Linked DNA regions of Homo sapiens: region 2 is linked to region 1. Evidence: fine-mapped expression QTL. A gene starts in region 1. The other region holds a variant in brackets. All regions are shown on one strand. Distances are between the middles of the regions.

Region 1 (12,389 bases):
CCAGTTTGGGTTCGATTCCCAAGTCACTGGGGAAAGGGGTTGAAGCCCAGATTCCCCTGGGATCCCTTCTGGCAGCCCAGCGTCCCCTCCCGCCCCCAGCAGCAGGTGCTGGCGCTAATGGCGCACACCTGCACCCTTTTGTGGGGGCCGCCTTGGTTGACTGGAGCCAGCTGGAGCCTGAGAGTTCTCCCCGCTCCCAGTTCACCCCACCGACAGCCATAGCTAAGGGCTGAGTCGGGGAAGAGGGAGGAAAAGCCCAACTCCCTTGTTTCAGGGCAGGTCAAACTTGAGGCATTTATGCACCAGAGCTGCCCGCGGGATCAGGTGAAAGCAGGGCTTCGTGGAAAGCCACATCCTTTCCCAGCGCTTCCCTTTCCCCAGTGCTTCCTCCCTTACCCTAGTTCGTTTCTCCCAAGGCCACACCCTCAACACATCCCTTATCCCAGAGCTTCATCTCAGACTCTGCTTCCAGGGAAGCCGGCCTAAGCCAGGGTTATTTCTCCACAGCTGGAGGCATGACATAAATTACTAGTATATCCCCTTTTACAACCCTTTTTATTTTCCTAAAATGACAATTTTAAAGCTTTATTTTTATTATAAAAGTGATACATGCTATGGCTAGAGATTCAAATCGTGTAAACGAGTATGAGGTAAAAAGTAAAAGATTTGAAGCACCCCCCCAACTCCCGGTCCCCAAAAAGGTACCCAGTGTTAATTCTGTAGTATCCTTTTGGAATATGTCTATGTATCGTTAAGCATAAATATAGGTACTTTTTACCTACATTATGTCGGACTAGGCTGGGCGTGGTGGCTCATGCCTGTAATCCCAGCATTTAGGTAGGCCAAGGTGGGCGGATCACGAGGTCGGGAGATTGAGACCATCCTGGCTAACATGGTGAAACCCTGTCTCTACTAAAAATACAAAAATTAGCTGGGTGTGGTGGCGTGTGCCTGTAGTCCCAGCTACTTGGGAGGCTGAGGCAGGAGAATCGCCTGAACCCGGGAGGCGGAGGTTGCAGTGAGCCGAGATGGCACCACTGCACTCCAGCCTGGGCAACAGAGCGAGACTCCGTCTCAAAAAAAAAAAGAAAAGAAAAAAAAATTATGTCAGACTATTCATATTATTTGACAAGCTGCATTTTTCTATTTCCTGGATCATGGATTTCTTTCCATTACCAGCGCAGAGCTCTGCCTCAAACACGACTAATATGTATTCATAGGACTTATTTTAAGAGGCTCATCCTCTGTAACTTGCCTGGTCTCTCATTTCTGTGAATCAAAATGGGAAAAGCAGTAATGTGAAACTGTATTTTGACAAATGAACAGCTGAGAGGTCAGTTTGAGAAACTGTTTGCCATTCCTCCTGTCGTGTACCTAAGTAGGCCCCTGGCTGAACTGGGCTCCTAGGGAAGTTCGTTGCAGGGCCTTTGGATTAGGCACATGATGCACCTGAGGGAGACTCACCTGGACGCGACGACTCATCGAGCTCCTGAGAGGAGAGAGGTTGATTAGGGTGGATGCTATTCTCTATGTTCCCCAGGAGTGTGAGAGTCAACAAAATCCCACCATCACCAAGGAAACCATTAAAAAATCCCAGCACTTTGGGAGGCCGAGGCAGGCGGATTACGAGGTCAGGAGATGGAGACGATCCTGGCTAACTTAAAAGTATAAAAAATTGGTCAGGCGTGGTGGTGGGCACCGGTAGTCCCAGCTACTCGGGAGGCTGAGGCAGGAGAATGGCGTGAACCCGGGAGGCGTAGCTTGCAGTGAACCGAGATCACGCCACTGCACTCCAGCCTGGGCGACAGAGCAAGACTCCGTCTCAAAAAAAAAAAAATCAAAGCCACCTACTTAAGGACCAAACTATCCTTCCAATATCGTGTGATTGTGTGAATACCTACAACTGAGATATATTCGGCAACAGATACAAGACGGAAGCAACACCTGAATATTGCAGAAGGTATAAAATGTATGTTGTTACATAACAAAAATTAATAATGTACCACAATGAGGTGCAATCTCATACGCATCAGGATGGATGCCATTAAATAAAAAAAGGAACGAACTCTGAAGATAACAAGTTGGTAAGAATGCGGTGAGCCGGAGCCCTTGTGCAATACTGGTGGGAACATAACGTGGCACAGCAGCTATGGAAAACAGTAGGGAAGGTCCCCCCAAAATTAAAAATAAAATTGCCATATCACCCAGCAATTCCACTTCTGGGTATACACACAAAAGAACTGAAATCAGAGTCTTAAAGAGGTATTTGCACACCAATGTTCATATTAATATTATTCACAATAGCCAAGAAATTGAAGCAATCCAAGTGTCCATCTATGGATGAATGGATAAACAAAATGTGGTTTATACACACAATGGAACACTATGCAGCCCTAAAAAAGAAGGAAATTCTGAAACTTGCTACAACATGGATGAACCTGGAGGACATGTTGCTAACTGAAATGAGCCATCCACAAAAAGGCAAAGTGTGATTCTACTTAGATGAGGTCCCTAGAGTAGTCAAATTCATAGGGATAGAAAGTAGAATGGTGGTTACCAGGGGCTGGGGAAGGGGGCAATGAGGAGTTCTTGTTTAATGGATACAGAGTTTCAGTTTAATAAGATGAAAAAGTTCTGAAGATGGATCGTTGCGCGGCAATGTAAATGTACTTAATATTGAACTGTACACTTAAAAATGGTTAAAATGGTAAATTTTATGTTGTGTGTATTTTACCATAGTCAAAAATAAAAATAAGTAATGTATTCCTCAGTCCTCCCAAGCCTCCACAGTCGCTCAATATTAAATAGCTGGCCAGTGCGGGGTCATTTGGTCATTGTCTGCATATGCAGGGCCAGGCTGCAAACCCAGTCTCACTCTTAGTGACTGCAGTGCTCAGCATCCAGCTCTGAGTGCCACTGGCTTAGGGGTTTGGGAGTGGGAGGAATCCTGGTAGAAAAAACTGTGGGAATTATAAGCTACCCTGTCACACCCAAGAACAAATCAACCAACCGAAAAAGGGGAGGGGACAGTAGTGGAAATTTCCAGTCCCACAGAAGTTACTAAAAGAAGAAATGAGGAGACACCACCATGGGACATGTCCCTCGTCCTTACAGAGAAGGGGTTAAGCATGTGGCATCTGGACCCAGACCGTCAGGCTGGGATCCTGGCTCTGCCCCTTTCCAGATGCGTGTGATCTTGGATGTGCCACTGAAACTCTCTGTGCCTCGTTTTCATTGGTAAGGAGATTAAAACAGTGCTTGGCACATAGTAGGTAGAGCATTTGTTAAATAAGAGAAAATTTTCTTTATTTCACTCTCATTACAATGCTGTGAGGACTGTACAGTTATGCTCCTCTGTAGAGGGGAAACTGAGGCTCACGGAGGTAAAGTGTCTTTTCTGAAGATGCCTCAGAGCTGAATGTGGGCCTTCTGACTCTCTATCCCAGTTCTCACCTTGCGTCTGCATCCCTCTCCCGCCTGTGTAGGTGGCCCTTCTCCTGAGGCCAGAGGTGGGTACAAGGTGGTACAGAGTGTGGGTAGGGCAAGCTACAACCACCTCACCAAGCAGCCTGCATGCCCTCGCGCTACTCCTGCCCCAGGCACCACTAGAGAAAGCCCACGGCTTTTGCACTCAGAACAGAACTTGCTTGCCGTAAAACCGAAGCCCTAGAAGCAGGCTGCATGAGAGTTTAAGACGAACACGAGTCCCGTTTGTGGAAAATCACTTTCTCCATCAACTTGGCTACATGGAGACTGACCACCCTGGCTTCACTACTGCCCCACTTTGGGCCCATCTCACTGCCAATGTCTGCAGTCCTTGGAGGGTGCACAGGGCTGGGGAAAGTAGATCTCTGCATGTTTTAAATCTAAGTAAGTGATTCATGCACATGGTACAAAATTCAATGGCACAGAAGGCATTCAATGTAAACTGAGTCTGTCTCCCGCCTCGGCTCCCCACTGCCAAAGTTCTGGCCAGAGGCCCACATTGTGATTAGCTTCTTGTGAAAGGAAGGAAACCCCTAAATCCAATTGATTTGTTAGGTAGGAAGTTGGTTCAGATGGGCAACAGACAGCCCTGGGTCAAGCCAGTCTGTAAAGGATGATGGGCACCGAGGGACATGGGGAGGCAGCTGGAAGGGCCTTTCTACACGGTGACTGTGTCAGCTGCGGAGTGGGGAGGAGGGTGGGCTGGTATCTACCACATACCTCTTCCCTGTGCTGCTGCTCTCTTCTGCTAGGAGTGAATGCCAGAAAGCAGTCGCCTTGGGTTTCTGATAAGGCTTTTGTGATTGAGGCTGGGATCCCATGACCCGCCCCCCACTTCTTGTCATTAGGAAGAGCCCAGTTCCTTAATCCATGTACAGGTAGGGTCAGCACCTGTGCATGGTCCACACTGAAAAATAAGGATCAGCATCAGAGACCTTCTTCTCCGCTCTCTGCCTCATCCTCTCTTCCTTTTTGTTCCTTTCCCTTCGCTGTCATTTCCATTCCCCACCCCCAATTGTACACTAAACATGTACATGAATGGTGCCTAGCTTCCTATGAGTTTATGACTTATGGTTATTCATCTTAATAACTAAGTGGCTTTGCCAGGTAAAATATTAAGGCACCATTGCCATTATGACCTTGTCTTCCATGATCTCATTGGCAGCTGGTGTTGCCATGACAACTTGGCTAGAGGAACTGGTATGAGCTTCAGTGGAAGGCGATATGAACACTGGTTGTGTGTGTGTGTGTGTGTGTATATGTGTGTAAGAGAATACAGACTTCTCATCATGTGTATCTGTTGTGCAGAAAGCCATGGGTTTCCACACCTTCTGCTTCTCCTTCCATTTTGGTCAAAATTAGCCTCAGGGATCTAAATCAATTGGAATGGAACTCTGGGGGATGATTTCTTTGTTTGGCTTTTTGAGTGGCAAATTGGAACCAGGAACACAGAAGAAATATTTTAGTGGCTTTCCACCCCTGGGAAATGAAGCAACCCTATCCACTTTGACGTTTCTCTTAAAAGCACCCTGGGCCTAACTTATTTAGCATCCATATGTAATTTTCTTAGTAGATGTATAGAAAGTTGGAGCTGAAAGGAGCCCTGGGTGGCGCCTAGTCTGGCCCCCTTTCTGTTCAGATGAGAAAAACTGAGGCCCAGAGGCTAAGTGACTTGCCCCCATTTAGTATGATGCAGCAGGGAAGGTGTGGGCTCTGGAATCATACTACCTGGTCTCAAAGCCTGGCTCCACCATGTATTTACTGTGACCTGAGTCAAGTTATGTAACCTCTCTCAGTTTGCTCATCTGTAAAATGGGGATAATAGCAGGAGTAACCATATGGATCAGTGTGAGAATTAAGTGCTATAATCCACAATGCTTGGCACACTTTAAGCCTTCTATACATTTTATCACATGGGTCACACAGGGAATAACTGGCAGAAATTGGACTAGAATCCAGCTCAGCTGACTCCAGTTAAACGGGAACATTCCCTTGTGAACTCCATACTGCCCTTTGTTTGTGTGTGTGTGTTACTTGGCATCCAGGTGAGAGTGGAAGCTCATTTTGAGACAGGGTTTGGCTTTTCCTAAGACCTCCTCTTTAAATGTATATAATGTATACACTAACTACCTCGTGGATGCTTGATTTGAGGCTAACACTGGACACCTCATGCCCTCATGGAAATTTCTTGAATGTACACTGCATGGCTGTAAGCGCAGGGGAAAAAGGAATGAGAAGAAAACTTAAGGAGGGAAACCAACACTTCTGATCACTTTGTATGAAACTAAGCTCTTTATAATGAATGCCTTTAATCACAACCACCCCACGAGGTGCGCATATTCATTCCCATTTTACATATTAAGAAACCAAGACTGAGGGTGTATGCAGCATGCTCAGGTTCACCTGGCTAATGCAGAGAGCTGGGTTTGCAGCCACACTTTTACTTCAAGGGGCTGCTGACACCCTCCAAGAGACTTGGTGGTTCAAAACTATTTCTCATCCCCTCTCTGCGAGCCAAAAGCCTATTTCCTGAGGTGTTCAGAGAGATTCAGAGCAGATTGACACCTTTTCCATCACTGACACAAAGAGGAGGGTATAAAAAACAGTATGTAGCCCTGGGGATCTAAAATATTTTCCCAGCCAAATCGGACAGGCATTGAAAGTCACACAGGCTGGGGTGGTTTTACAAAATGCCACTTGTTTAAATTTCCTTTCATCACTCTGTCAGGAATAACAGCAACGTAGTGGAGCCTCAGAGTCCTGTTGAGAGGGGCGAGCTGTTCCGGGGAAATTTATTTCAAAAGTTATTCTGAAGTAAAAACTTGCCCACTGTGGAGTGAGGTTGGACAGTGATCCTATATCCTAGGTAATGAGGCTATTAAAGCAGCTGGTCTCTTCAGCTTATGTAAGTGGGGCCCAGTCTCTGGGCGACTTGGGTAAACCGGTATAGAATTTAACAGGGTGACTAGGAGTGACAGCAGCAGTAAGACCCCCATTTCTAATGTGGCGTTAGGGCTGGAGGTTAGATGTGGACAGGGGTGTCTGAGTCCTACATAATGGGGCTGGATGACTAGTCTGAGATCTGGGTTCACGCAGCAACCACACTCTTTTTTACTCACACTGTTCATCTGGGCTTGGGTGGAAAGAGGCTGATGAGGATTTGGGGGAAATCAAGGGGCTCTCCCTGGCATTGCATGAAGTCGCAGAACCAGTGGCAAAAGTCCAACTTTGGAGACAATTACTTCTCGGGTGGGAGCCCCAGCCCTGCCTCTTGCCTGCGATGTCGCCAATCTGACTGCGCTTGCTGGAGACGGGAAATGTGGCACGGCACTGCATCCCCCAACACGTGTAGAAACTTAGAGAATGCCAGTTATTAAAATAACCCTTATGATAACACCAATTCGATGCAGAAGTCTTTTAAATATCATAAGCCTCGTCGTTTTATTCCACATGGTTTTCTAGGTAACCAAATTCTAGGAGGTGCGTTGCAGGGCCATCTTCGCATCCCGGCCATGCCCAGCAGGACGGTGTTCTCTAAACGGCGCTGATGCCCGATTTCGACCCCGAGGAGACTGCGGACCTCGACTGCGGCCCCCACCAGGGCCGGTCCGCCCTCACTCCACCCTCTGAGGCTGGGGCGGAGTCGACCGGCCGGCCCCGAGACCCCTTGCCTTACCGGTGGAGCAAGGAACCGGAAGCCGCGGCTCTTACATAACCGGGATGATGTCAGGGCGGGCGACTCCCGGGGGGCGGGACCAGGGCGGAGGCCGCGCCGGGAGCGCGGTGGGGCTAGGCGTGGGGCGCTCCCGGCATGTCCCTGTACCGCAGCGTCGTGTGGTTCGCCAAGGGGCTGCGCGAGTACACCAAGTAAGGCGGCGCGGCGGGGCGCGGGGCCCCGGGCTGTCACGTGGCCCGCCTCGGCGCGGGCGAGCAGGGTTGGCGGGGACGCGCCCGCGGCTCCTTCGCCCTCTCGCTGGGCCGACTAAGCGTGTCCAGAACGACGGGTGCGCCCGCCGTCTAGCGACCCACGGCTGGGCGTGGGGCAGTCGCCAGACTCCAGCCGCTCAATGCCCGCGACCGAGACTGGCGCCCGAGGGGCGGGGCTGTGGCGCGCCCAAGCCCAGGGCCGTCCCACTGACGTCAGGCGGCCCCGGCGCCAAGGAGCCTCTTGGGCGGCACCTCGGCGCCCCGCTGGGTGTGCTCGTGGAAGTGTCTTCGTGGTGCTGCTGGCGGCGTCAGATAGGGCTGGATCTAAATCGCTAGCTAAGGCTCTGTCCTAGTGCCTTTGGGTGTGTTTCCTTTAAAAAGATGCAGCACCTGGACTGCGACCTTTGGCTCCAGCTGGAACTTTCCAGCCAGTGTGTGCTTCTGGGGAACGGTGCGTGGTGGTTTCGTCGCCCCGTGACCACGCTCAGTGTGCCCTAGTTGGCTCTCCACCTCATTGTGGTTTTAAGAGGTGACAGGTTCCTGTGACGGAGGAGAGATGGAGGTTTTCTCTTAGAATTGATTAGGCTAACCGCTGGTTCTCAACCCTGTCTGCACATCAGAATCACTGGGCGAGAATTAAAAGTACCCAGTTTTCAGGCCCCATCCCTACAGATTCTGATTTAGTGGATCTGCACAGGGGCCTGGACTGGCATTTCATCCAAATGCCCCAGGTGATTCTCACCTCTGAGAGGCTTCTCCCTGCACTGGGGCTTTATCAGTTCCCACGGCAACCTGGCCAGCACTCCTAGGGGAGGTAGGAGTTGCAACTCCCTGCTCTTCACCCCACATCGTTTTGGAGAAGGTTCAGCTCTGTCTCAGGAGCCCCTGCTGCAGAGAATGGTGGGGAGTGTAGTCGTGAGCCCTGTCCCACAGTTTTTAGGGGAATACAGTGGCAGCCTCTTTCTTTCAAAGGGGTGTCCTCTGGCAATGACCATTAATTGCTGGATCTTTCCACATTACACAGCATGAAAGCTTAAGTCAGTTTCCAACCAGGGGTGGGCCCCAAGGAAAGCAGACTGTAAAAATTTCTCCCAGGACTCTTTCGCTCTGATTTCCCCACCTTGAGGGAAGGTAGAAGTGAGGCCAAGGGGCCCAATCCACCACAGATTGGTGGGGGAAGGGAGGGGAGGGGAAGGCAGTTGGCAAAGTTAGATGGGTTTTCCTGCTGTTGTGGATTTAGTGAATAGGAGAGAAAAACAACAACCTTGTTTTGACTTCAGTGTGAGAGCGCGGAGTTAGAGTTTACAACGTTTCTCTTGGCACAAGGATTTTTATAAAGCCTCCCTATATTGGGCTCCTAAGGCAGGAGGATCTAATCACTGTTTCCTAAACTTTGCTGAACCTAATAATTCCCTGGGGCAGTTTTAAACAGACTCCTAAACCCTGGGCAAGTGTGGATGGGTCCTAAGCAAATTTCATATTTGGGTAAATTGAGGGTGTGGGGAGACACAGATACCTGCCAGCTTCCTCCTCCCCATCCCTGTCACCTCAGCTTCAGGAAACAGTAAGTACAAATGTCCTCTCAGCTTGAGTCAAAATCACTGGCAAGGCACATGAAACCACAGGTTGCCAAGCAATCACTTCTGAGTCAGTAGGCAGGGCATTTCCAACAGGTTTCCAGATGATGCTGATGCAGCTTGTCTGGGGACTGCCCTTTGGCACCGAGGCTGGGTGTTGAAGAAGATCACCTACCTTCTGGTGACCTTGGGAAAGTCGTGTGTGTGTGTGTGTGTGTGTGTGTGTGTGTGTGTGTGTGTGTGTGTGAAAAATAGAGACTGATATCTAGAGACTGATTTCTAGAGTGAAAATAAAATGCTTCCCCAATAAGGGGCAGAGTACATAAAAGACAAGTCTTATTAACAACAGATCGGACCAGGATGGAATTCTTGTATGGAAGGCAAGATCCAAGGCAGAGGACAGAGGGCGGGGACATGTCCTGCAGGCCAGGCTGGTACTGCCCGCTTGGCAGCACTCCCAGTCTGGAGTTTGAGGAAGAGGTTCAACCCAGAGGAGCCAGCCTCAGCAAACATTCGTCTCTAATACGGATCAGTGTGGAGCCCAGAGGCTAATGTCCCCTCTGACTGGGTATCACAGAGAAAAGCCTGTCAGCTTCCTGCCCCTGGAGAAGGGCTCTTCAGGCCTGTTCCCTGTGGACTGCTTTTTTTCTGGCTCTATTGTATTTGGGAAGTTCTCACTCATTCCCCACAATGCCTCCTCCTAGCTAAGCCCCTATTCATTGACTCAGGCCCTTGCCTCTACCGGAAAAGCCTTTCACAGAGATTCCAGGGCTCACGTCTGTGTTTAGGGGGAAAAAAATCTTCCAGTTTCCTCTTTGTAGTTTAAAATGCTCTCAAAGTCCCTACTGATTTGAAGGCTTGGGGGCCAAATGAGCTCAAGTGTGAACATGGACGGTACTGTCATTATTAATAGTGATAATAATAATGTCACCTGGGTGCGGTGGCTTATGCCTGTAATCCCAGCATTTTGGGAAGCCAAGGTGGGTGGATCACCTGAGGTCAGGTGTTCGAGACCAGCATGGCCAACATGGTGAAAACCCATCTCTACTAAAAAATACAAAAATTAGCCGGGTGTGGTGACGGGCGCTTATAACCCCAGCTACTCAGGAGGCTGAGACAGGAGAATCACTTGAACCCGGGAGGCGGAGGTTGCAGTGAGCCGAGATCGCGCCACTGCACTCCATCCTGGGCGACAGGGTGGGACTCTGTCTCAAAAAATAATAATGTCAGCTGCTAATTATTGAGCTCCTAATATGTTCCAAGTGCTGTCATAAGTGCCTTAGATGCGGCATCTCATTTAGGCTGCCCAAGAGGTATCTCTTATTATTCCCTTTCTGCAGATGAGGAGATAAGAGCTCAGAAAGGTTAAATCAACACACAAGATGGCACAGCTAGTAAGAGGCTGAGCTGTGACTTAAACCCAGGTTGTTCAAGCCCTTGTTACTGATATTTTTAAGTTTCAAGTCAACCTTTTTGGGAAGGCTTTGGAATAAGAAGTCTTGCTTGCCACTCACAGCAGAAGCAATGGGTAGGGTGTTCTCTAAGCTGCCCTGCATGTTCTGGTGAGTTACAGATGGTGAAAACAGGAACATTTTTCTTGTTCTCTTAAGAACATCTGGCTTGACTGAAACAAGTGGCAATGCCTGCCCCGTGGCAATGACTTTCAAACCAAACCCAAGCTCATAAACATCCTTTGGCCACTTCCCCGAGTTCCAGAGCATGTAACTGGCAGTTGTGCTGTACCAGGGCATGGGGCAGGAGGCCAGCTGTTGGCTACCCTTTTGTAAACAGGTCCTGTGGGAGGGCTCTCAGCATCTGTGGAGCCTTGAGATCAGAGTCCCATCCTGCATTGCCCAGGAGAAATCTCTCGGCTCCGTAGGTGAGAGATGTAAGCTCTGAGACCCCAGCCTGCCTGTGCGTGGGCAGAGTCTGCCCTCTGGGCCTCCACCTGCCAACCCCACCATTCTGCCACCACTGCCCTTAGCCAATTTCATAGCCAGGAAATACTAGAAGAGTAAAGGTAGAGAGGTATCGCAAAAGGAATGGGAAAAAGAAACAGTTAAAGAACTCACAATTGCATCTATCCAATATGATGCCTTTGTGCAAATCAGAAAAAATACCTCTTCTGCAATATGCTTTTCTGCCACCTGCCAGAACATTATCATAATGCAGATACAAATATCCCATCATTCTGATCCGAATGGCACTCCCTAGAGCTGTGCAGTGCACACCTTGTGTCCCTGAAGGAGCCTTGGCTTCCTCTGATGGGTGCAGAGCTTAAATAACTCTACCATCCTCCTCCTTTATTCCCTACTTGCAAATCTCCCCCGTTTCTCCAAGTAGGCAAGGATATCTGTCCTGCAATGCAATAAGCACAATGCAAATGGTCTCCTAAGCTTCCTGAAACCTGCCCCCCACAAAAGGGAAAAGAGCAATTCATCTGTCAAGGGATTTTTTTTCTTTTTGCCACTCCCCAGGATCGGGGCAGTCAGAGGAAGACAATTTGGATGCCAAAATGTTGGAATCTCCAATATTTTCAAAAGTTTGGAAAGATCATGGTCCAGGAAATGCAGGCCCCGAGATAGTGGTGTTTGTGAGAGCAGGGAGGGCAAGGGAGAAAGGAGTTTCGTGATGTGTTGGGAGAGGCGGAGACAGCAATAATGCCCATCCTAGAATTAGGCTTTCTCCTGCAGGGGTTTGTGTTCCCCACTCCTTACAGCTGGTCTTCCTGTGGGTCTCCTCTTTCTAGGAGTGGCTATGAATCTGCATGTAAAGACTTTGTCCCTCATGACTTGGAGGTCCAGATTCCTGGAAGAGTCTTTTTGGTCACTGGAGGAAACAGCGGCATTGGCAAAGCAACTGCCCTTGAAATCGCCAAGCGAGGTAAGCAGCTGCTAACACGTGTGTCCACTGAGCCCCACGGCCAGACTGCGGCCGGTCCACACTGAGGAGGGCACCCTGTGTCACAGGCAGGCCAGGAAGTCCTGGACGGCGATCCCATGGTTCTGGGCACAGCTGCCAGCTTTCTGAGTTTTGAGCTCCAGGTGGCTAGAGCAACAGGAGCCCTTTCCTCAACACTTAATTAATTCTCAGGCGAGCTTGGGGTCCTGCCCACGTGTCCCAGTGTTTTCTGATTAAGAACAGCGAGGGGCTCAAGCAAACCCTGGACATCAGAATCCCCAGTGGAATTTAATTAAAAAAACAAAAACAAAAACATGAACACCTGGTCTCTAACTCATGTCTTCTCAATGAGACTCTCCTGGGGTGAGAGACAAGGGGAGGGGGAGCCTCAAAGTCCACTGCAATTTGGATGTGGATGGTAGTTATGAACCAAGGCCCCCAAAATACCTGGAGAGAGGAGTGCATTGAACTAAACTTCCTCCTTGCTGGGGTCCAGCC
Region 2 (12,389 bases), 39 kb before region 1:
ATCACAGAAGCAATGCATACCCCCTATCCCCACCTGAGAAAAAATTATTGGTAAAATAAGAATTAAAATATTATTTTAAATTTATTATAAATCAGCAAACATTATACTTGATGATAAAAGACTCAGGGCTTACTGTGTGCCCATAATTGCTCATTGATGTAAGTGTACCAGCTGACTGGTGTCTCCATTCTGACTGGGCAGGGCCCTTGTCTAGTTTTTACATTCTTTAAAAATATCCCAGAAGACATTATTAAAATAAAGAAGTGGATAGCATTCACCGTTTTGTAAATAATAACCAATTTATTAGGCAAAGAAATAAAACAAGTATAAATATTATAAGGAAATCATCATTACTTAATAGGTGATTTGGCTTAACACCTAATAAAGAGGGGGAGAGAGAAACAACGTAAAATTGTAGTTGATAATAGCAGTAGAATGCCAGTTCTCCCCAAATTTGTGTATAAACTTAATGCAATCTCAAACAAAATTACAGAAGGGTTTTTCTTTCCCCAGGGGAACATTTCAAGTAGCTGGGACTACAGGCACACACCCCTACACCCAGCTAATTTTTTATTTTGTTTTTTAGTCTCAATACATTGCCTGAGCTGGTCTCGAACTCCTGGTGTCAAGCAATCCTCCTGTCTTGGCCTTCTAAAGTGCTCGGTCACGGGCATGAGCCACTGTGTCCATCCTGTTTCTGAAAGAGACAGCCCAGGTCCCACTGAGAGACCACAGACGGCAGGAAGCGATGGGGAGGGAGGGCAAAGAGGCGCCAGTAGGTGGCGTTGTGCATTTTCCCAACCCTGACACTTGCCCCTGGGAACTTAGACCCTCGGCCTTGGAGCCCAGGTTAAGGACAGGAAGACAGGAGAGTTATTCCTTTCCTCACACCCACTCCAAGGCGCCACTTCAGACCTGAGTAAAAGGGTTGAGGCGGGAAACCTGACAGCGGCGTGTCCGCGCATCCTCCCACAGGGCCTCTGCGACCGCTGAAATTGGGGCTGAAGAGACCCCGGGATTTTCTGGAGCATGTTGGACAACTGCCCGGTTCCACAGGGCCCTTAGAATGTTAGGCCTTGACTCCCCCAGCTTCTCAGATCCAGGAGTTTGTTTGCTTATTAAACTGTGCTAAAATACACATAACATAAAACTCAACATCTTAACCACTGAAAAATGTACAGCTCAGTAGTGTTAAGAATATTCACATTGTTGTGCAACCAATCTTTTTCATCTTGCAAAACTGAAATGCCACATCCCTTAAACAGCAGCTCCCCGTGCTCCCCTTCCTCCAGCCCCTGGTGACCACCAGTCTACTTCCATGTCTATGACTATTCTGTGTGCCTCACGTGAGTGGAGTCATACAGCATTCGCCTTTCTGTGGCTGGCTTATTTCTTAGCATAATGGCCTCAAGTTTGCAGCATGGGTCAGGGGTGCCTGTCATTTAACTCTTCTTCTTCCTGACTGTGAACTAGTTGTGGGACCATGCATTCTGTTTCTCTTTTTCTTAAATTGTCCTCAGGAAAATTAAAATGCTGGGAAAAGTCAAAAGGAAAATGAAAACTTATATTGAAATGCTTTTTGACTCAGGTAGAAGTCGAAGTGAGGGACCCTGAAGGTTTTCTCCCAAATTAGGAAGCCGTCAGGATGAATAGATGGTAAATATAGAAACGGTGACTCAAATAGAAGAGTGACATCAGAATGGAAAACTTCCAAAGAAAGCATGAAAAGAATTAGGATGTTTACATAGAACTAATTTGTTGGGGAATAACACACAAGCAAAGACGAAGACAAAGACAAACTTTTGTGCAATCTTGGGGAAGAGTGAGAGTGAACACTCATCAGTGTCCCTTGGCTTTCTGATTGCTCCTTTTGGAGGTGCACAACCTGGTCTTTGGGCAACTTTAGCATCTCCCTTCATTTCTACAGCTTCCATCAAGAAGTCAGGCCTACCCTCATTAACTCACAGTTGCCTTTGTAATTAAACTCAGGCACGTGCTCATTCACTCACTACTCTTTTGCATCAAAATTCCTTATAGGATACATGGATTTTATTAAGTAATCTTTTTATTCACAGTATCTGGCTTGGAGTCAGCAGTATTCATTCAATGAATGAATGAACTCACTTTTATGAGGAGAACCACCTCAACTAAAGACAAGCATTTAAAAATTTATACTCTGAATTCAACTTTCACTCAATTCTACTATCATCTCCCCTAATGTGCCCTTTATTCATATGGCAATAGTGGAGTGGTGCCATATGTGGACTCTATCACGTGGCCTGAATTGAAGTTCATTACACACTTAGTAGCCATATGCCTTTAATCTCTGTACCTTATGCTACTCATCTGTGAAGTGGGGGTATTAATCGCACCTACTTTGCTTTGGGCAGCATTTCCAGTGGTGGTCTTCCACTCACATCTCTAGGGTTAGCAACTGCTTCCACTGTCAGTTGCTAATCTCTGGGTTACTCCACCACGACATCGTGCATGACTTTTCAGCTCTTCCGTGGCTCTTGTAACTAATTCCCCATATCAGATTCCCCGTTTTTCTTAACTGATAGAGCTATTATTACTATCATTTATCATTACCTTTGGAGTCTCATAATCACTTTCCAAAGACTCCTACTTTCTCCCCCACAAAAATCTCCTATTTCTGTACTCATAAGTACAGTTGTCTGTTGGCAGAAAAATATTCTTTGATGTTTTGCTGCATGTTTGGGGACATGTGGAAAAGCTCCTGAGTGACCTGCCATTGTTTTCTCCCTTCCTGAACTCCCAGGAAGACTGCCTCATCACCTGAAATTTTGTTTGTTTTGATGTCAGGGCTAAAATGTGCTCAAAAAAGACTGCTGCCCCTTTTTGGCCACGTCCAGGCCAGGCTTATGGTCACCGTGTGCTCCCAGACCCCCACCACTTTGGCAGGGAAGCCTTAAGACTCTGACCTCACTGCTCACAGTCACTCTGCTTCCACTCACTCAGTGTGAGATAAGAGAAGATTCAAGTACCGTCATGTATCACTGAACCATGGGTATATGTTCTGAGAAATGTGACATTCGGCAATTTTGCCATTGTGTGAAGGTCATAGAATGTATTCACACAAACTCACATAGTATAGCCTACTACACACCCAGTGGTCCCCAATCTTTTTGGCACCGGAGACCAGTTTCATGAGGGTGGGGATGGGGAAGGTTTTGGCATGAAACCGTTCAACCTCAGATCATCAGGCATTAGATTCTCATAAGGAGTGTGCAACCTAGATTTCTGGCATGCACAGTTCACGAAGGATTTGTGCCCCTGTGAGAATCAAATGCCGTTGCTGATCTGACAGGAAGTGGAGCTCAGGTGGTAATGATTGCTCACCTGCCACTCATCTCCTGCTGTGGGGCCCGGTTCCTAAAAGGCTAGGGACCAGTACTGTTCCCAAAAGGCCAGAGACCATGGCATGTTACTGTATTGAATAATGTAGGCAGTTGTAACACTGTGGTAAGTATTTGTGTATCTAAACGTAGAAAATACTACACATAGTATTTGTGTATCTAAACATTGTGTACAGTAAAAATAGGATATGAAGGATTAAAAAATGGTGCACCTGTATAGGGCATTTACCATGAATGGAGCTTGCAGGACTGGAAGTTGCTCTGGATGAGTCAGTGAGTGAGTGATTAGTGAATGTGAAAGCCTAAGACATTACTACACACTACTATAGCCTTCATAAACACTGTACACTTAGGCTACACTACATTTATTAAAAATATTTTTCTTTAATAATAAAGTAACCTTAGCTTACTGTAACTTTTTTACTTTATAATTTTTTTTAATTTTGACTCATACATTAGCCCATACATTATACATACATTACATTAGCCTAGGCCTACACAGGGTCAGGATCATCAATATCACTATCTTCCATCTCCACATCTTGTCCCACTGGAAGTTCTTCAGGGGCAATAACAGGCAGGAGCTGTCATCTCCTATGATAACAATGCCTTCTTCTGGATACCTCCTGAAAGACCTGCCTGAGGCATTTTTACAGTTAACCTTTTTTTAATATATATAAGTAAAGGAGTACACTCTAAAATAATGATAAAAAGTATAGTATAAATACATAAAGCAGTGACTTCGTTGTTTTTTATTACTGTAAAGTATCATGTGCTGTACATAATTGTATGTACTTTACTTTTATGTGATTGGCAGTGCAGTAGGTTTGTTTACACCAACATCACCACAAACACATCAGTAATGTGTTGCACTACAACATTATGACTGCTATGACATCACTAGGTGATAGGAATTTTTTAGTTCCATTATAATCTTAAGGAACCACCATCTGTGTGGTCCATCATTGACTGAAACATTGTTATGTGGCTCATGACTGTGACTGTATGTCCTTTCCTCTAGCAGGCTCTCCTCCCCTTGCTCCTCTGCTTCACCCTGTCCTGTGGTGTGAAGTGGTCACCTTGGATTCAGGACTGGGAGAGTGGCAGGGCCAGCCCTAGAGTGAGCCCGGAGAGGTGCCCTCCTCCCAGGGGTGTGCAATGCAGGGGTAGCTTCAGAGGGAGCAGCTCCTTGCATTTTACATAATAGGCTCTTCTCTTGCCTCACACCAGTCCCTCCCCCAGTCCCTCCCCAGTAGACTGGCCTTTTCCACCGAAATGACAACAAAAAACCTGGAATGTCAGGGTTGGAGAATGCCTTTAAGTCATGTGACGCCAGTTTCTCTAAGTGTGGTCCATGGAGCACCTACAGGAGACTTAGCAGAGTCTAAACTGCAGATTCCTGGGCCCAGGCCCAGACCTACAGATTGAGAATCTTTGGGAGGTGGTACAGGAATCTGCATTTCAATAAAGAATCTCTGGCACTTCTTATAAATCAGCAGCTGAGAACTTCTACTGCTAGGTGCTTGCTTACAATACAGACACACAACAGCCTCACAAAGCAGCCTGCTTCAGGTCTAAGAAGGCCACTGTTACAAAGTTTATGACATGGGGCACAATTCAGCCTTCTTGTAACTTCATTCTATCTCAGATCTGGCCGTCTGCAATGACTCGGAATCAATTTAATCCCTTTTCTACGTGGCAGTCCTGAAGTCCATAGGGCACCTCTCATTACCTCAGCCCACTTTGAGTACCTTCACACTCTTTCCTAAGCAGCCGCTGTTCGGTCCACCCTTTCTCGTGTGCCACCAACATGCAGGGAGGGCAAGGGGTGAGAAGGGGCTCGCACCAGAACTAAGTCCCTAGGTTTAGTGCCTAAGGGACTGAAATGAAATGTTTCCCGCGGGAATTCCTAACTCCAAGGGGTCGGCCATGTTTCCACAGCTCCCAGGGTCGCTCTGCTGCCCCCCTGCGGGCCTGGGGAACACTGCAGGGGTATGAGCCGGCGGTGGGGCTGCTCTCCCCACACGTGGGAGTGGGAAATGGAGAGAACCCGCCCCTTAGAGGAAAAGCCACGAGTTGCTGTTGTGCTGCAGGAGAGAAAGGGAGAAAGAAAGCGTGCGACAGGGAGTGGGAGCCCCAAGTCAAGAGGAGCCCCACAGAGGCAGCCCTGGACTTCGGGACCACAGAGGTGCTGAGTGCTGCCCGATTCTGGATCCCACTCTGCTTAGCTCAGGTGAGTCCGGCAACCCTGGGCAGCCTGTGAAGTTGGAGAGACAGTCCTAGCAGAGGGTTTCTTGAAATCATTCTTAGGAAGATGCCAATGTGCTGATTATGCTTCCTGGAAAGAAAATGACTACATTGTGGAAGTGCTTTTCTTAATTGTGTGGAGGGAACGAAAACAATCTTCACTGAGTCTAAGGGAGATGGGTTTTCTGGAGAAGAGAACAATCGTAAAGGAATAATTAACTGCAGGGCGAAGGCAAGTTGTGTGGGACTCTTAGAAACAACCTACCGGCTGCAGGACAGCGAGTGGGGACCACAGGCATCACCTCCATGTCTTACCTATTGGGGCTGTGAGCAAGTGGCTTTGACTTGGTCATTTTAAAGGGGTGGTAGAGCTCAAAGGAAGTGCATTTTTCATTTCCTAGGAGCCAAACAATGAAGGCATCCTAGGGAGGTTGTGGAATGACTCTGAGACACAGTAGGTATGCGATAACCTCCACTGAATTCATGCATTCGGGCATGGTTAGGAGAGAAAACAGCACAGGTTACACAGAGAGCTACAGATAAGAAAGGACTGTGTCCTGAGCACCCGAAATGTTTGTTGAAAATATTCAACAATACTAGTTAACATCTGCTTTGAAGGAACAGGTATGGGGATGGTTAATGTCTAATATTCAATGTTATTCAAAACCAAGAGTGAGTTGGTCCTCACAGCTGATTTAGGAATAAATAGTTTAATTTACCAAGCCAATCAGTAAAAACACAATCATATATATATATGTGTGTGTGTCTACACATACACACATATATATACATATATATATGTTTACTGTTGATTCATGACACAACTCAGAGGTTAACAAAAGTAGAATTTTACAAATTTGAACTCTAAAACTGGGAATGTTAGACAGACATAGAAAGTTTCTCAGACCTAGTCCTATTGACATTTTGGAGCAGATAAGTGTTGTTGGGGACTGCCCTGCTCCTTGGAGGATGTTTTTCAGTATCTCTGGTCTCTTTATCGACAGCCCTGCTCCAGCCATGACTATTAAAAATGTCTCCACATATTGCCAAATGTGCCTTGGGGATCAGATCACCTCTGGTTGAGAACCACTGAGATATATCAATTGGACTGAAAATTGAAAATGCATTGAGCATATCATTTGGCAATTATTATTGATTAATTCCCATCGTGCCCTTTATTATCACTCAGCTGCTAGGAGAGGAAGCAGCAGGGGCTATTATCACTGCCCTTCTAGGTGCAGAGGCAGGTGTGAGACACACAGTCCTATCACAGCATGCCCAAGGATAGACTTGTAAGTCACTGTTTGTTCACACTGGAGAGAAGGCACTGCCCGGCCTGTTACCCCAATCTCTTCCTGTTTCAGATTTCTAACAAATAAGAAAACTTTCTATCAAATAAGAAAAAATGTACGTTTTCTTAGTAGAAGATATAGAAGGTATAGAAATTGACTAAAATCTGTGTCATTACAGATTTTAGTCAATCATTTAATGGATTGCATTGACATGAATCCATCATTAGTATGTATTTGCTCTATTGGGCATCTCTTGCTGTTGAGGGACCCTCTTTTGGAAGAGCTGCCGCTTCAAAGGGCTCCAAGG[A/G]ACGTGCAGTTTTTTGTGAGTTGTTCAAGTCCCCACCATAATAGTGAATAGGTCTTTTGTAGTGTATTTGAATCTGCAAATTCACACAGTGAATTCTGTGAATCAAAAAGCAGATTCACTGCTATTTTCTCAAATTGCAGCTTTCTTTGTGGGCTTCCTCTGAATTGAAATAAATCCATATCTTGGGTCATAAAAACCAAATCACAAGGGGGAACATACAACTGGGAAATAAGCCTAGAAAGAATTGGCAAAATATCACTGGCAATCAAAAATGTAAATTAAAATAATTAATTTCCACTTTTGCCTATGAGAGTAATAAAAATGCATTAGTCTTTCAGCCACCCAGTGCTGGTTAGGTGTGGTGAAACTGCCACTCTCATATTGCTGGTGGCACTGGAAATGGATACAGCTCATTTATAAGTCAATTTTACCTCAAATCCAAAAAGTTGCTTATGCTTTTTAATTACATAACTATTCCAAGAGATCTACGTGTGCATGAAACAAAGCACTTTTCATGGAGAGAAATGTCTCTTAGGATTACTTGAGTGAAAAGTAAATATCCAACAAGAAGATATAGAGAAATATAGTTTGATATAGCGTACTCTGTGAAATATAATTCAGCTGTGAAAATGAGAGTTCTGAAGACCAAATGGTAACAGAAAGAATGCTTATGTCAAAATGTGATGTGTTCACTTAATGTGCCTGATTATTGCAACCATGTAAAATGTGTGTACATGCACATATGCATATGTATATATGCATATACTTAAAAGCTCCAAAATACTAACAGTTGGGCTGGAAGTTCTGCAGTTGTTTATAATGACTAATGATTTTCTTTTCTCCTTGATCTAATTTTTCTGTGAATTCGCTTTTGTAATTTTTAAAGAAAGTATTCCAAAAGAGAAAAATCTTGCCTACCACCATCACATCATCTCTCTTCTTTTTGTGTCTGCTCCCTGGTGGACTTACTCCTTTTCTGCTTATCTATCTCCTACATGCTACTTTTTAAAAATCTCTGGACTTTTGGAAAGCAAACTACTTTTCATTTCAAATAATACTTCTTGAATTTTAAGAGGTTTTAAAAAGAAGTTTAAAATTATAATGGTAAAACCTGCTAATGGGGGAAAAGGCAAGGCAATATTTGGGTATAAAGTGGAAATGAAAATACTACCCACGCCTGCCTGCGGCACATTCCTCCCTACCCCTACCCCAGCCCCAGTGGCCCCATATCCCTGTACCTGCCTTCATAGGGAACAGTTATTCACAGTGGTTTAGTGTTTATGCTGCTGATCTTTTTCTATGTGTTTACGTAGATCTACAGACATTATTACATGCACGAGGTCATATGATGTGTGTGTGTGTGTGTTTAACATTTTATTCCTTGTAAGGGAAGTTGAACACAATATGCAAAGTTTGTCGGCCAGCATTTGAGACTGTACCTGGGAATTCTGTCTTCCCTTTCGGGCTGGATGCCAAAGCTGAGTTCTACTGCCACTGCTACCTGTCTCTTAGGGAACATTCTTTAAGGCGTGACAGAATTCACAGCACATCATTCTTTTTTTAGTTCTCATCCATCTTGCCAGTTTATGAAAATAACAAGCTTGAAAGAATAAGAGTCTCCTCATTTATAAAATGGATCTAATACCTGCGACTTGTGTTGGTGTGTTCTATTGGCTGCCACCTCTTGTGGTCTGATATTATCAATAAAGATATCACTGTTTTTCAAATTGATGTTTCTACCTTATTTGCAGTTAGTGGCTAAAGGGATCAGCCAATTTAGGACATTTGCATTAAAAAATGTATATGCAGCTCTATTACTTTTTGTGGTGAAACATTGTTCTTCAGGATTCACAGGAGATTAAAGCGTGACCTCTTACCCCAGGGAATGGCCCAAGGTAGAAATGTCTTGTTATAATGTGACACAGACCCATCTCGTTAGTTTCTGCAAAGCTGCTGTGGATTTGAAGACTGGAATGTCTTAGTTTGTAGGCGCTGATAGAAACCGTTCAACACATTTCAAAGGAAGTTTGTAAATCAGTGGCGACTCCACCAGGCAAGTGTAAAGAGATGGCTCTTGTGTCTCCTCCCTCTGTTCTATCCCTTCTGTGATCCAGGAGAAAAATGCTGTGGTTCGTGGCTGGAAGATGTGAAGTACACACTCTCCCTGTTATGTGAAGTGCACCCTCTGTTTTCCCTAAGAAGGGTGAGGAAAGGAACCGACCTTCCGGGCCTTTAGGAGCCGTGATGGGCCATGGCCCCTTTAGATAACTGGGCTTATCACTGGATCCAGGAGGGTTGTTTTTCCAGGCAGGGTTTTAAGTGGCTTAGCTTCTGTGACACCCGTGTGGCAATCAACCTCATGAAGTGTGGACATCAACAATAAATCTGTAATTCATACAGTAGCCATTTGTCCATGGCTTGGGGCCTACTTGTTATGTAACAAACGGATGTGCACCTGGCAAACCCCATTGGGCCAGAGAACTGGTCTCATTTCACCTTGATCGGTAGAATCCCGAGTCAAAGGATGTGGAAGGAGGCTGTGGTTTCCTCAGGGCTGTGGTGTTCCTGATTTTCTGTGTATAAGGACATCACAGCCACAGTTTTTGCAAGAACATTGTGGGGGAAAATGGAGCCTTGTGAAGAGACATTTGAATAGTAGTTCATAGAATTATTCATTAAACATTACTGAAGACCTACTGCATGCCAGGGAGACAGACTCATGCGCATCCCCCACAATTGCTTCCAGGAGAACAGTGGGCAGGGAGCCTGCGTCAGGAGGCAGAAACAGCAGAGGGACCCCTGGAATCCAAAGCGCTGCCTTTGGGATTCCCAGGGATTGGGGGGTCAGAAAACCTTGGGTGCTCAGCCCTGCCACTCTGTGTCCCATCATCTCACTGCAGTCAAAACTGTCAAAGTCCGTTCTGGTTAACAGAGAGTAGGCACCTCAAGTTTGGCAGATTTTAAGACACCTGGATTCCAATCTGGCTGTGTGATCTTGGGCAAGTCCTTCACTTTTCTGACCCTCAGTTTCTTCATCTGTAAAATGGGGATAAGAATCTTTGCCTGGTTAAATAGGATCAAGCATGACAGGACTGACCAGGGAGGCACCGTGACCTCCTTGCTTAATCCCTGACTCACTTTGGGAAGCCTCTCCTTTCCAGGTTTCTTCCCCTTTATTGCTCTGGGGTGAAGTGGAGAGATTGTGGGCTTTGAAGGCACAAAGTCCAGGTTTCAGATAGAGTCTCGGAGGCCTCATTTCAAACCCCAGTTCTACCACTTACTAGCTGGGTGACTTTGAGCAAACAAATTGATCTGAATCTTGGTTTTCTCTGTAAAATGGGGCATACGAACTGAGGAGACTAAATTAGGTAACATGTGGAAGACCTTGGCAGGGCGCTGGTGATATGCCTCTGGTTGGGGACTGACTATCTCTGGTCACACTGCTTCCTGCCATAAAGGTCCTGTTGACATAAAGCCAAGTTTTGAGCATGACATGTCCTAGAAGGACAGTGATGGGAAATAAGAACCCCGAGTCTCAGCCCAACCACCGTGCTTGTGTGCTAGCAGTGGATCAGCTGCAGAGAGAAGCTGCGGGCTGCATGGCTCCTGCCTGCAGGCCCATGCTGACGCTGGCGGTGGAGTGACTTGCCTGCTATGAGCCACAGCTCTGGTCAAAGCAAGCTCTCCTTCTGTCATCATGACCATCTCTGTCCTCAGACCACAAATCTTCCCCATCACGGCCTGTTCCCCCTGCCCTAAGCCCTAGTTCACCCAGGAGGGCCTGCAGGTAGTGCTGCTAAAATGCTGTGGTCCCTTGGTTTGCAAACCCCTGCAGTATGAGGAACAAGGACCTTGTTAAATCGTGCTTTTAAATGGAGCCGCGGCTACTCTGGACAGGTTCCTGGGGAGACTTTTGTATGAAGTAAGGATGCCTGCCCCAGATCCCGCCTGGATCAGCCAGCCCCCATGGAGGCCTTACTCCCAAGCAATGACGTGGTGGGAAGTGGTGGAACTACGCACACCCAGCCTCAGGAACAAAGTGACTCCCTTCCTCTCCTAGTGTCTTTACGGGGCTACCTCATTTCACCGGGCAGGAAAATTTGCCGTCTTGATGAGCTGGAGTTTTTTTGTGGATTTAAAATGTATATGGCTGTTTCTTCCAAGGAAGGGAAGCCCTTTCTCACAGTGTCAACCAACTTGCTCAGACCACAGCAGGTCCACAGGGGAGCCGGGGTGGTGCTCCAGGCCGCTCGGGTCTCCACCCAGGCTGCTCTGGTCAAGTCCATGGTTCCTCTTCCGCTTGGACCCTGGGGAGTGCAGCAGCTGCGTCAGGAAGTGAGGGCGCCCTTGCTCTGTACCTGGAGCCATACCTGGATCAAGTTTGGGTTCTGCCAGTTGCCAGCTCTGGCCTTAGGGTGAATCTTAAGCTCTCAGGGTCTCTAAGGCGCCATCTGTAAAACAGAGTCAGTAACACTTCCCAGATAGGATTGTTGTGGGATTAAATATGAGATGACCTATTTAAAGAGTTAACACAACGCCTGGCTGCAGCCATTGCTCAGCAAGTGAGAGCTGTTACCATCTCCCCCTCCAGGCCTGTGTCTTCCTGGCTGGTATCACTGGGCAAGCCTCTTAACCTCTCTGAGCTTGGTTCTCTCATTTGTGGAATAGGGGGTCTTTTTCTCAGCCCCGCTAACCACTAACAAGGCCACACCTGACACTGGCACCCAGGCCACCCGGGCTGACTGAGACCACCCTGCAGGCCACCACTGACATGCACAGAGAGGGTTGGTTATTGGTGCTGAGTAAATCCTTCCACCATCCTTTCTAATGAATTATTTTTGATCCTCAGAACTTTGTCAGCGAGCAAGAACAATGCCAGGAGGTCTGGAGAAAACGTGTCATCAGTGCATTTCTAAAATCGCCAGCAATGGTGAGTCACAACTCTGAGAAATGCCCTGGTTTTGTAGGATTGAGACCTCTGGGATCACCCGATGAGCTAAAGCTGGAGTGGATCATATGAGTGGGCTGTGCTTGGTATGGGGTGGCCCCAGGGTGGTAGAGCTGGGGAAGACAGTGTCCGGCCCTCGGTTGGCTGCTTTCTCCTTCCATTCCTTACCAATTCATCTTTAGTTTTCCATAGTTCACTGTATGTGTTTTCCATGTAAT

Evidence for each region. PIP is the estimated chance that this variant, and not a neighbour inherited with it, causes the effect.
Region 2: its variant is fine-mapped to the expression of DHRS12 in whole blood (INTERVAL, PIP above 0.99).

Annotation. Positions count from the first base shown.
Region 1 is chr13:51,799,018-51,811,406 of GRCh38, reverse strand. It overlaps DHRS12 (dehydrogenase/reductase 12), which reads left to right and starts at 7,244. Exons shown (of 9, transcript NM_001377533.1): 1 at 7,244-7,353; 2 at 11,740-11,873. The coding sequence starts at 11,748. LOC107984561 (a long non-coding RNA gene) reads right to left here and starts at 7,571. Exons shown (of 2, transcript XR_007063805.1): 1 at 6,606-7,571. RefSeq lists enhancers at 6,364-6,493, 8,879-8,928 and a silencer at 7,044-7,683.
Region 2 is chr13:51,838,237-51,850,625 of GRCh38, reverse strand. It overlaps TMEM272 (transmembrane protein 272), which reads left to right and starts at 5,449. Exons shown (of 5, transcript NM_001351003.2): 1 at 5,449-5,610; 2 at 12,073-12,153. The coding sequence starts at 12,096. RefSeq lists an enhancer at 948-1,448. The variant A/G (reference allele first, on the strand shown) is at 7,224.